3 separate regions of the Homo sapiens genome follow, and regions 1 and 2 are each reported to be linked to region 3. The links are microRNA targets in miRTarBase. Many come from high-throughput screens and were not tested one by one. Region 3 holds a microRNA gene; each other region holds the end of a gene's coding sequence.
The links. The annotated mature microRNA hsa-miR-571 reads UGAGUUGGCCAUCUGAGUGAG and lies in region 3 at 1,457-1,477, opposite strand. An mRNA with a match to its seed (bases 2 to 7 or 8) in the 3' UTR can be bound and repressed. Matches are read on the target gene's strand: a 7mer-m8 pairs with bases 2 to 8, a 7mer-A1 pairs with bases 2 to 7 and ends in A, and an 8mer does both.

Region 1 (3,358 bases), not on the chromosome of region 3:
TAAGTCTATTAACCTAATGCCCCCAAAATACTGACAGTTAATATGATGGGGCACTAGGGTTCTCAGAAAGTTAACAGACATTCCTAACTACATACCTCTAACCATATAATCAAGGAAATTTCAGTGGAGAAATCAAAGTGAAATGTTGCATTGTTTCATTTAGAAGTGAGACTCTCAAAAACCTTTGGACAGACAGAGAAGTGATACATTCTTTTTGGCTTCTCTGAACACTGAGGCCTGAGGGATATGGAAGGAAATTAGAAAAGCAATAGCTTTCTAAAGATGTTTAATCAAGTGTTGCTTCTAAGTTAAAAAGCCCAATTCAGGTGGGGTCTGGGTTTGTTTTTTGTTTTTTCCTTTTCAAATATATACTCAATTCAACCTCTGTATGTCACAAACCCAGAAAGTTTCTTGTGAGTTGTGAGACGGAAGAACTTTAAAATTCCAGGCAAGCAAAATGGACATTTAAAAAAGGGGACTAGAGAGGGGAATCTGGCCCTAAGGCGACAAGTGGTTACACAAGGCAATTGAACACACAGCAGAACTTTAAAACCTGTAAAACAAACTGGAGCCTTTTTTCCCTTTAATCAACCTTATATGTCTTTTTTTTTAACTTTTTGAAAATTTTTATTTAAAAAAACACAAAAACACAGACTTTTTTCACTTCAGTTATGTGGTATGTTGCATTTTCCAGTTTGTTCAATGCTTTAAAGCTCAAGGATGCCTCTGCTTTCAATTGTACATGGGCCTGAAGCATCCTAGCTTTTGGCAAGCAGGCAGGAGACTCAACAAAAATCAAAATAGGAACAAGGCAGACTAAATGCAGGGCACATCTGTAAACATATTATACATTTGAAAATTACAATATCAGTCAAAGTGATACAGTTTACAGGTGAAATGAAACTATCTGGAACTGGCCTACCACAAGTTTCTGAACCTGGACTGATACAATAAGTTATTTTATATATATATATATATATTATGTATAAAAAAAAGTTTTGTTTACATCAAGTGGAATTGGCAATCCATGCTTATACTTTTAAAATCTAAGCAGGGCAGAAATCCAGACTAAAAAGATAGTTACTCTACTCTATGTTGAGTCCAACAGCTTCTTTCATGAACTACTTGTTTTAAAAGCCTCAAATAATCAACAAAACAAGAAAACCCATCCATACTACAGTCACTCAAAACTGGACATTTCTAGGGGTAGAGCCAAAGTAGTTACTTTCTCCCCAAATACCCCAGGGGATCCAGTCTACTTTTATCAGAAGACTACAACTCTTTATATAAATGCCCTGATATTTTAACCTGTATTTGACATACATGGATATACTAATTTCTGTGTGTGTGATGTGATGCTGTGTCAGGCCAGACAACTTGTTATTATGTTACTAACATCACCCAATCTCAATTGGACCCTTAATTTCTGCACACACACACAAAAATTTATTTTAGCATGCTATACACAAGCTGCAGTGCAACAGGATGGCAATGTAATGATAAGACAGGGCTAATGCTCTTCTCTGCCCCAAAGAAAATTTCCAGAATTTCACATTATTTTCCTTAAAAACCCATCTTGCTCTAGTAATAAAATATATTTATTAAGATATAATTAGAAGCTAACAAGCTCAGAAGTATAGTTTGCATGAAAACACACCTTCTACAGTCAGGGTTTATTATCTTCTCACTGGCTAAAAACATGAAAAGTTTTAGTTTTCATGGACTTTTTTCTTCCCCTTTTAGATTTTGCTGAGAAATTAAAAGATAATTTACAGAAAGGTCTAAGTTTGTCTTAAATGTTTGATGAAAAACAAGGAAAACAGCACATTTAGTGTTAGTGACGGAGAGCAAGTCTGGAGCACCTACAGTTGAAAAGCAGAATATATTTTTGCTCCCAGTTATACAATTACATTAAAATATGGGCACAGGAATATTTTTCCAGATTGTATATCTAAGCCAATTGCTTGTTCTGCAACTTTTCTTTAAATGACACGCATAGATTCTTCAGTTGTTAAAGTCCAATATGTAACCGAAGCCAAGTTAACTATGTACCATCAACTAACTATTCCAGAATTGTAGAACTTCAATGCCCTCCCCTATCCCCGCCCCACAAAAAATAAATGGAAAGAAATAAAGTATTTCCCCAACACCCCAGAGGCCGCTTAACTCCTGGCAAGACATGCAAATCATATTCGCTAAAAAAATACACCCTGCTAACTTCAAGGCATTTATCCAGCATTCTCGCAGGGCTTAATTAAAGTAAAACCAAAAAGATCAAGGGAGGAGTGGGGGGAAAATGTTGAATCATTCTGGGTTCCCCGTGATTAGTGTATCACTTCAGTCACAGAACAAGATACAGAGATCTTTTAAGTGGATTTGCCTTTCCAGTGGGTCATTTGTTGCCCAAGTTGATGACAGCAGGAACTTTAGAACCACACTTGTTAAGTCTGTATTCATTAATCACTTGCATTCACACTTAAAAACAAAAACTAACAGAAGAAAAAAAACCTATTCAGTACCGGAGATTAAATAACCATGTGTAGTCTCTTGAAATAAATTTGATTCCTTAAGAAGTCTAATTACTTTCAGTTGCCTTTTTTAAATAACTATATATATATATATGTATATATATATATTTGTATATATTATCCTGTGATTCTACTTATGGTTCCTCTGCTGCGTTGAAGATCTAGGAGCATAAAAGCCTTGTGTCCCCCATGAACGATGGCTCTAATGCTGCAGAAAGGTTACGAATAGGCAGTCTGGTCCTTCATTGATCTGGACTATCCATGGCTTCATTGTAAGTGATTATCCTTTTGGGATCTAGAAAGGTTAAAAAAATAAATAAAAATAAGGTCTAGAATCTCAAAATGCCCGTATTCCAATAACAATCCCAAATAACCATCATTTAAACTGACCAATTTTTTTATGAAAACAAAACTTCAAGCCCATTTCCTCCTTGTACCAACACATGTATGATCCAGTTTCTCAACCTGGAAGTAGCTATTTGGAATTCCAATGAATTCCAAGTACAGGGTCCTCTAGCCAGTGAGGGCCTCAACTCCTGCAGATCAGAGATGGTTGAGTTCACTTAAGGGTTTTATGTACTTCTACTGATTACAAAAGCAGTGTATTTGAATACAGCAGCCAAAGAAAAAAGCTTGTCACCAATAATCCAATATTAAAAGAAACACTTGGATTTTTCTTTTGCTGTTCCCAGCAAATGAAGTCAAAATTTATTTTAACCAGTGTGGGAACTATCTAAGTAAAACCTGCCACCAAAAACTTGACGTTAAATTAATTAGCAAAACTGCCAATTCAGTCCTAATCAAGACTGACTCAACTTCCCACAGTAACA
Region 2 (3,000 bases), not on the chromosome of region 3:
GTCCAAAGAGTGTACATTTCAGACATATTTGACAATGCAGACAGTTGAGTCTACAGTGGATCGAAAAAACAATCTCAAAGATCTACAAGAAAGTATTGATACTTTGATTGGAAATCTGGAACGTGAGCTCAACAAAAACAAGCTTAATATGAGTTTTTGAGATTGAGGGTTTTTTTTTGTAATGTCTTAAAGTTTCAAATCTGTTTTTGTTTTATTTTCTTATACCACCCACAGCGATGTTTTCATTTTTTTACTCTTGAAATCTTTAATTAATTTTTAATAAGTTTATCTGATTCAATTAAAAACACTATTCATTAATACAATTTTTACTTATCTCACTAGAAAACTTTTCTGGGGATCAATAAAACTTGGACTTCTTGGGATATTTTACTAAATCTTGCCAACTCTATGGAGATAACTTTCAAATGCACTTAAGAAGGTTCACATAAGTTATTAGCCCCTCAAGGTTTTTCTGCTTTATGGGAACCACTCTTCTGTAGCTGAGACAGATGTCCTTTTTTTTGTTGTTTTTTGAGACAGAGTCTCACTCTGTCGCCCAGGCTGGAGTGCACTGGTGCGATCTCAGGTCACTGCAACCTCCACCTCCCTGGTTCAAGTGATTCTCCTGCCACAGCCTCCCGAGTAGCTGTGATGACGGGGCCCACCACCATGCCCAGCTAATTATTGTATTTTTAGTAAAGATGGGGTTTCACCATGTTGGCCAGGCTGGTCTCGAACTCCTGATCTCAGATGATCCGCCCACCTTGGCCTCCCAAAGTGCTGGGATTACAGGCGTGAGCCACTGCGCCTGGCCTCTAGATGTTCTTTTAGAGGAACATCACAGCTGCTCAGTCTGATTTGCAGTACTGGTCCTGGTACACTGCAACATCCTTTGGTCAAATTTTATTTGTAATGCAAATGCTGCTATAAGAAAATCTTTTTATAAATAAAAGTGAAATTATACAAGTATTAATGTTTTCTGTATTAACAGTAATTATTTAAGCTTATAAAAATTAAATATTTTTATAATCCTGAAACTGTATATATTTATAAATGCATATATGTATAGATATCAGGATGGGGGAGGGGTTATTGTAGAATCACATGTATTTTTAAAGTATATATGTCATGAGGCCAAAATTATTATCTTAAAGTATTTTTTTCAGGGAAAGAACATTTAAATTAAAGGAGGAATTACATAAAAACACTTGAACAATAATACTCTAGAAGCATCTGAATAGAAATAATAGACTTTCTTTCCTTTATTCACAGAAAGTCACAATGTCCCCTGGGAAAAGTCATCTTTTAAATTTGAAATCCTCTAACTCCTTAAGGGATTAAGTACCCAGATTTCTGCACTGGTGACTTAGATTTAATAAATCTGCTCCTGTTCTATGCATTTTTATATTCTGCTTTGTTTTAATTATTTATTTGTAGTAGTACATTTATAACATTGACTTTATAATTACCCCCATTTGTTTCTAAATAGTCTTGCCAGCATATTACATGTTACTGATTTTTAAAAATTAACTTATTTTGGCTAAGTATATATACAATGTTATAGAATCACAGTAATGTTTGAAAATGTAAATTTAGAAGGCTTTTGTATTAAATCAAAATGTATTTTTTTAACTTTTATATCTACAGAATATGTAATTTTAAAATTATAAATAGACTTTAAGTTACCAACTTTTAAGACATGGCAGCCATTGAAAAACTGGCTTCCTGATGTTTTTCTAAATATTAAAGTACTTAAAATATTTCTATGCAATAAATATTGATAAACAGACATTATTTAATTTGAAAACCCATTGTTAAAAAAGATAAATATTTTTATATGAAATTTTCATTTTTTAAAACTTTGTGTTAACAATTCAGAAGAATACCAAGAGAACATATATATTGAGTAAACAGTCAAAGGAAAGTACTCTTGAATGTTTTATAGGAAAGCTGTCTCAGTTTCCTTCCTTTTGTTGCTATATCATGTATGAATTGAATAAATTGCTCTAGAAATGTAAAAATTTTATTAAAATATTATAATCTTCGTGTTATGCTATTATAATGGTTTTAAGGATCACTTATTTTAATATTCTTTTTAAGCAAAGGTGTTAAAATTTTGGACCATCATGTATTATCCATCAATATATGTAAATAACATTTATTTGTCCAGAATTTTCCAGAATCTGAAATACTTTTAAGGGCCATGCTTGTATTACTATATTACTATATTATTTTGGATGAGAATAGTTTTAAAGTTGATCTCTGCCCTCTTAGAGAATTCTATCATTTTTTTGTTGTCTCATCACCGAGTTATAGCTATAAACTGCTTTTATTGACTCTGCTGTACCAGAAGTGTTGGATAAGTTTAGATGTCTTTACTTTAAATGGCATTTTACTTCAAATATTTTTTGCGAGTTTTTATACCTGCTTTTTATAATTTCCTAGGATCTTTCTGTAGTGTCAACTGTTGCTCCTTTCTGAGGCTGCCAGCTTTAATTTTTCTTTTTCTTTTCTTTTTTTTTTTTAATAGAGACAAGATCTCAGTATATTGCCCAGGCTGGTCTCAAATTCCTGGGCTCAAGCGATCCACCCGCCTCAGCCTCCCAAAGTGCAAGGATTACAGGCGTGAGCCACTATGCCCAGCCCCTAATGTTTTTTAGGATTAAAAACAATTTTAATTTTAGAGCATGTACCTGAATAAAAATTCTAAACAATTCAGATGGATAGAAAATAAAAGTACAAGTGTTTCTGTCTGCCATCCACACCAATTTCACCTCTTAGAGGTTAACAGCACGTTTCTTGCTGCTGTTTCTTATCATTTAAGCCAAATTTGTTATTCTATGAATGATAAACAGTTTATCTCACTTCATTCCTTCTCACCATTTTTGTTATGTTTTTAGTTCATTTGTTCTCCTTTATAACTGTAGTTAATAATTTTTTTGATCCATTGACTTTAAATATATTTCCATAACATTGAGGAAATGACCAACCTTGTACTTC
Region 3 (3,358 bases):
TCGGATTCCCAGTCAAGGTTATTCACTTAGTTTTATATAAAAAGAACTCAGTGGTTGAAAAATCCAGGAAAATGCCTCAAACTCAGTGCTTATGTTTTAGGAGGAAAGAAAATTGTAAGGCACTTACATTTTATACTTCAACAAGTATATGGAAGTATAAATGTTTCTCCGGCCAGGCATGGTTGCTCACGCCTGTAATCTCAGCACTTTTGGAGGCCGAGGGGCGGATCATGAGGTCAGGAGACCACCTGGCTAACATGGTAAAACCCCGCCCCTACTAAAAATTAAAAAAATTAGCCAGGCTTGGTGGCAGGCACCTGTAGTCCCAGCTACTCGGGAGGCTGAGGCAGGAGAATAAGTTGAACCTGGGAGGCGGACATTGCAGTGAGCCGAGATCGCGCCACTGTACTCCAGCCTGAGTGGCAGAGCGAGACTCTGTCTCAAAAAAAAAAAAAAAGGTTTAACTGGCTCATAGTTCTGAAGGCTGTACAGGAAGCACAGCAGCTTCTACTTTTGGGGAGGCCTCAGAAAGCTTCCAGTCACGGCACAAAGCAAAGGGAGAGTGAGTCATCTCACACAGTGGGAACAGGAGCAAGACAAGAGTGAGAGGGGAGGTGCCACATGCTTTTAAAAAATAAGATCTCAGGCCGGGCGCGGTGGCTCACGCCTGTAATCCCAGCACTTTGGGAGGCTGAGGTGGACGGATCATGAGGTCAGGAGATCCAAACCATCCTGGCTAACATGGTGAAACCCCGTCTCTACTAAAAAAAAAAAAAAGTACAAAAAATTAGCCGGGCATGGTGGCAAGCACCTGTAATCCCAGCTACTCTGGAGGTTGAGGCAGGAGAATGGCATGAACCCGTGAGGTGGAGCTTGCGGTGAGCCGAGATCATGCCACTGCACTCCAGCCTGAGCCACAGAGCGAGACTCCATCTCAAAAAATAAATAAATAAAAAATAAGATCTCGGGAGAACTCACTCACTATGGCAAAGACAGTACCAAAGGGGCTGGTACTAAACTATTCATGAAAAGCCAACCCTACGATCCAATCATCTCCCTCAAGGCCCCACCTCCAACAATAGGGATTACATTTGACATGAGATTTGAATGGGGACATAGATCCAAACCGTATAATTTACAAAAGTGAAAAAGTGAAAAAATTCAAACATCCTTCAATGAATGAAAGATTTTAAAAGATGTGGCTTATACACGCAATGAAATATTCTTTAGCTTCAAATGAAAATGTCTTGTCAGATGCTACAATAAGGATAAATCCTGAGGCCATTATTTTAGTGAAATAAGACGCTAACAAAGTGACAATGCATGATTCCATTTTTATACAATATTTTAAGTAGTAAGCACATAGAAAGCAGAAGTAGAAAGGTGCTTGCCTATGGTTAGGGTTGTGAAACCTCAGTGGAGCCAGAGATCGAGGGTTATTTAGAATAAGCAGGCCCTCACTCAGATGGCCAACTCAAGAGCCCATAGACATGGCTACAGACAAGGAAATGGCACACTGAGCTTGGTCTTACTGAGGATTCTGAAGCAGTTCTGTAACCTCTCTCAAATTCAATCTCAGCTACAGTCCAGACGTGGTCCTTCCCATCAAGAGACCTGCAGGGAGATACACACCCAGCCATGGCCCTGGAGGCAGGCCTGTATATCCTGGCCTCAGCTGTGCTCCTGAGCCCTGTGACTCAGTTCTAGCCCTCACAGTCACAGTCCATGGCCAGTTGTACACAATCAGGGACCCAAAGAGAAAAGTGTGGAAACTGTTCCCAGGTTGTCAGTAGAAGCCAAACCCATTCATACACCTGGTATTTGGCCCATCATATGCAGACAAACTTCAAAACCCTAGTCTACTGCCTGCCATATAGATTAATATCCTCAAGGAAATCTAATCTCTCCAGGGCCCAGAAATAATCCATGACTGTCCAAATCTCTGGTAATACAATCATCAAAGGCAGACCCCACAGCAGACCCAGCAGCACCCTTGTGACCCAGCTACAACCCTTCTTCTCTGCAACCCCAGAGGTAATCTCATCAGCCTGGGACTCAACAAAAGGAGATCTTTACCTGCCAAAAATAGTTTATACAAACTGTGAAATTTGTCAAATGCAGACACAGGGCTGCTTCAGAGACCACAGCCGGGGACAAGACTTGCAGGCCTGCCTCCAGGGCCACAGCTTCTATCTTAACATGTGACTGGAAGTTTGTATCAAAACAATTAGACAAGGAAAAGGAGAATAAAGCTCTCCAGAGTGGAAAAGAAATAAAAAAGTTACTGTTTGTGGATAATATCATCATGCATATACATAAAACCCTAGAGTAAAATAAGAAAAATTGATTGAACTAATAAATGCATTCATTAAAGTATCAGGATACATAATCAACATATAGATGCTTGTTGGGATTTTTTTTTTTTTGAGACAGGGCCTCACTCTATTGCCCAGGCTTATCTCAAACTCCTGTACTCACATGATACAACTGCCTTGGGCTCTGAAAGTGCTGGGATCACAGAAATGAGCCACTGCACCTGGCACCACATACAAATATTTCTTGCATTTCCATAGAGTAAAAACAAACTTTCCAAAAATAGAAACCATTTCCATTTGCAATAGTATAAAAATAAGAAAGTTAATCAAAATAAATTTAACCAAATGACATAAAAAACATATAGTATTATACACTAAATACAATAAGATATCAATGACAGAAAGTGAAGTAGAAACAAATAAATGGAAACATATTCCATTAGGATAACTAATATTGTCAAAGAATATTATCCAAAGTGATCTATAGATTCAATGTGATCCCTATCAAAATTTTATTGGCATTTTTCACACTAATAGAAAACACAATTGTAAAATTTAGGTGTAACCTTAAACGACTTTTAATAACCTGAGCAATCAATCTTGAGAAAGAACAAAGCTGGGGGCATCATACTTGTTTTTTTTTTTTTTTTGAGATGGAGTCCAGCTCTGTCACCCAGGCTGGAGTGCAGTGGCACAATCTAGGTTCAGTGATCTAGGCTCACTGAAACCTCTGCCTCTTGGGTTCAAGTGATTCTCCTGCCTCAGCTTCCCGAGTAGCTGGGATTACAAGCGCCCACTACCACCCCTAGCTAGTTTTTGTATATTTTTAGTAGAGACAGGGTTTCACCATATTGGCCAGGCTAGTCTTGAACTCCTGATCTCAAGTGATCCGCCCACCTCGGCCTCCCAAGGTGCTGGGATTACAGGTGTGAGCCACCTTGTCTGGCAGGCATCATGCTTTCTAATTTCAGACTTCAAAACAAAGACTGAAATTAAGACATGAAATCTTAAAACTCATGAAGAAAACATATGGAAAAACCTTG

Region 1: the mRNA of NUFIP2 is a reported target of hsa-miR-571. Seed matches in the 3' UTR shown: 7mer-A1 at 415-421.
Region 2: the mRNA of SYDE2 is a reported target of hsa-miR-571. Seed matches in the 3' UTR shown: 7mer-m8 at 401-407.

Annotation. Positions count from the first base shown.
Region 1 is chr17:29,261,769-29,265,126 of GRCh38, forward strand. NUFIP2 (nuclear FMR1 interacting protein 2) reads right to left here. Exons shown (of 4, transcript NM_020772.3): 4 at 1-2,823. The coding sequence ends at 2,771. Among named protein-coding and RNA genes, the nearest start is that of CRYBA1, 17 kb to the left of the region's middle.
Region 2 is chr1:85,155,910-85,158,909 of GRCh38, reverse strand. SYDE2 (synapse defective Rho GTPase homolog 2) reads left to right here. Exons shown (of 7, transcript NM_032184.2): 7 at 1-2,021. The coding sequence ends at 160. Among named protein-coding and RNA genes, the nearest start is that of MIR4423, 24 kb to the right of the region's middle.
Region 3 is chr4:348,336-351,693 of GRCh38, reverse strand. MIR571 (microRNA 571) reads right to left here and starts at 1,537; the gene lies at 1,442-1,537. The region is part of intron 3 of ZNF141 (zinc finger protein 141); the gene reads right to left.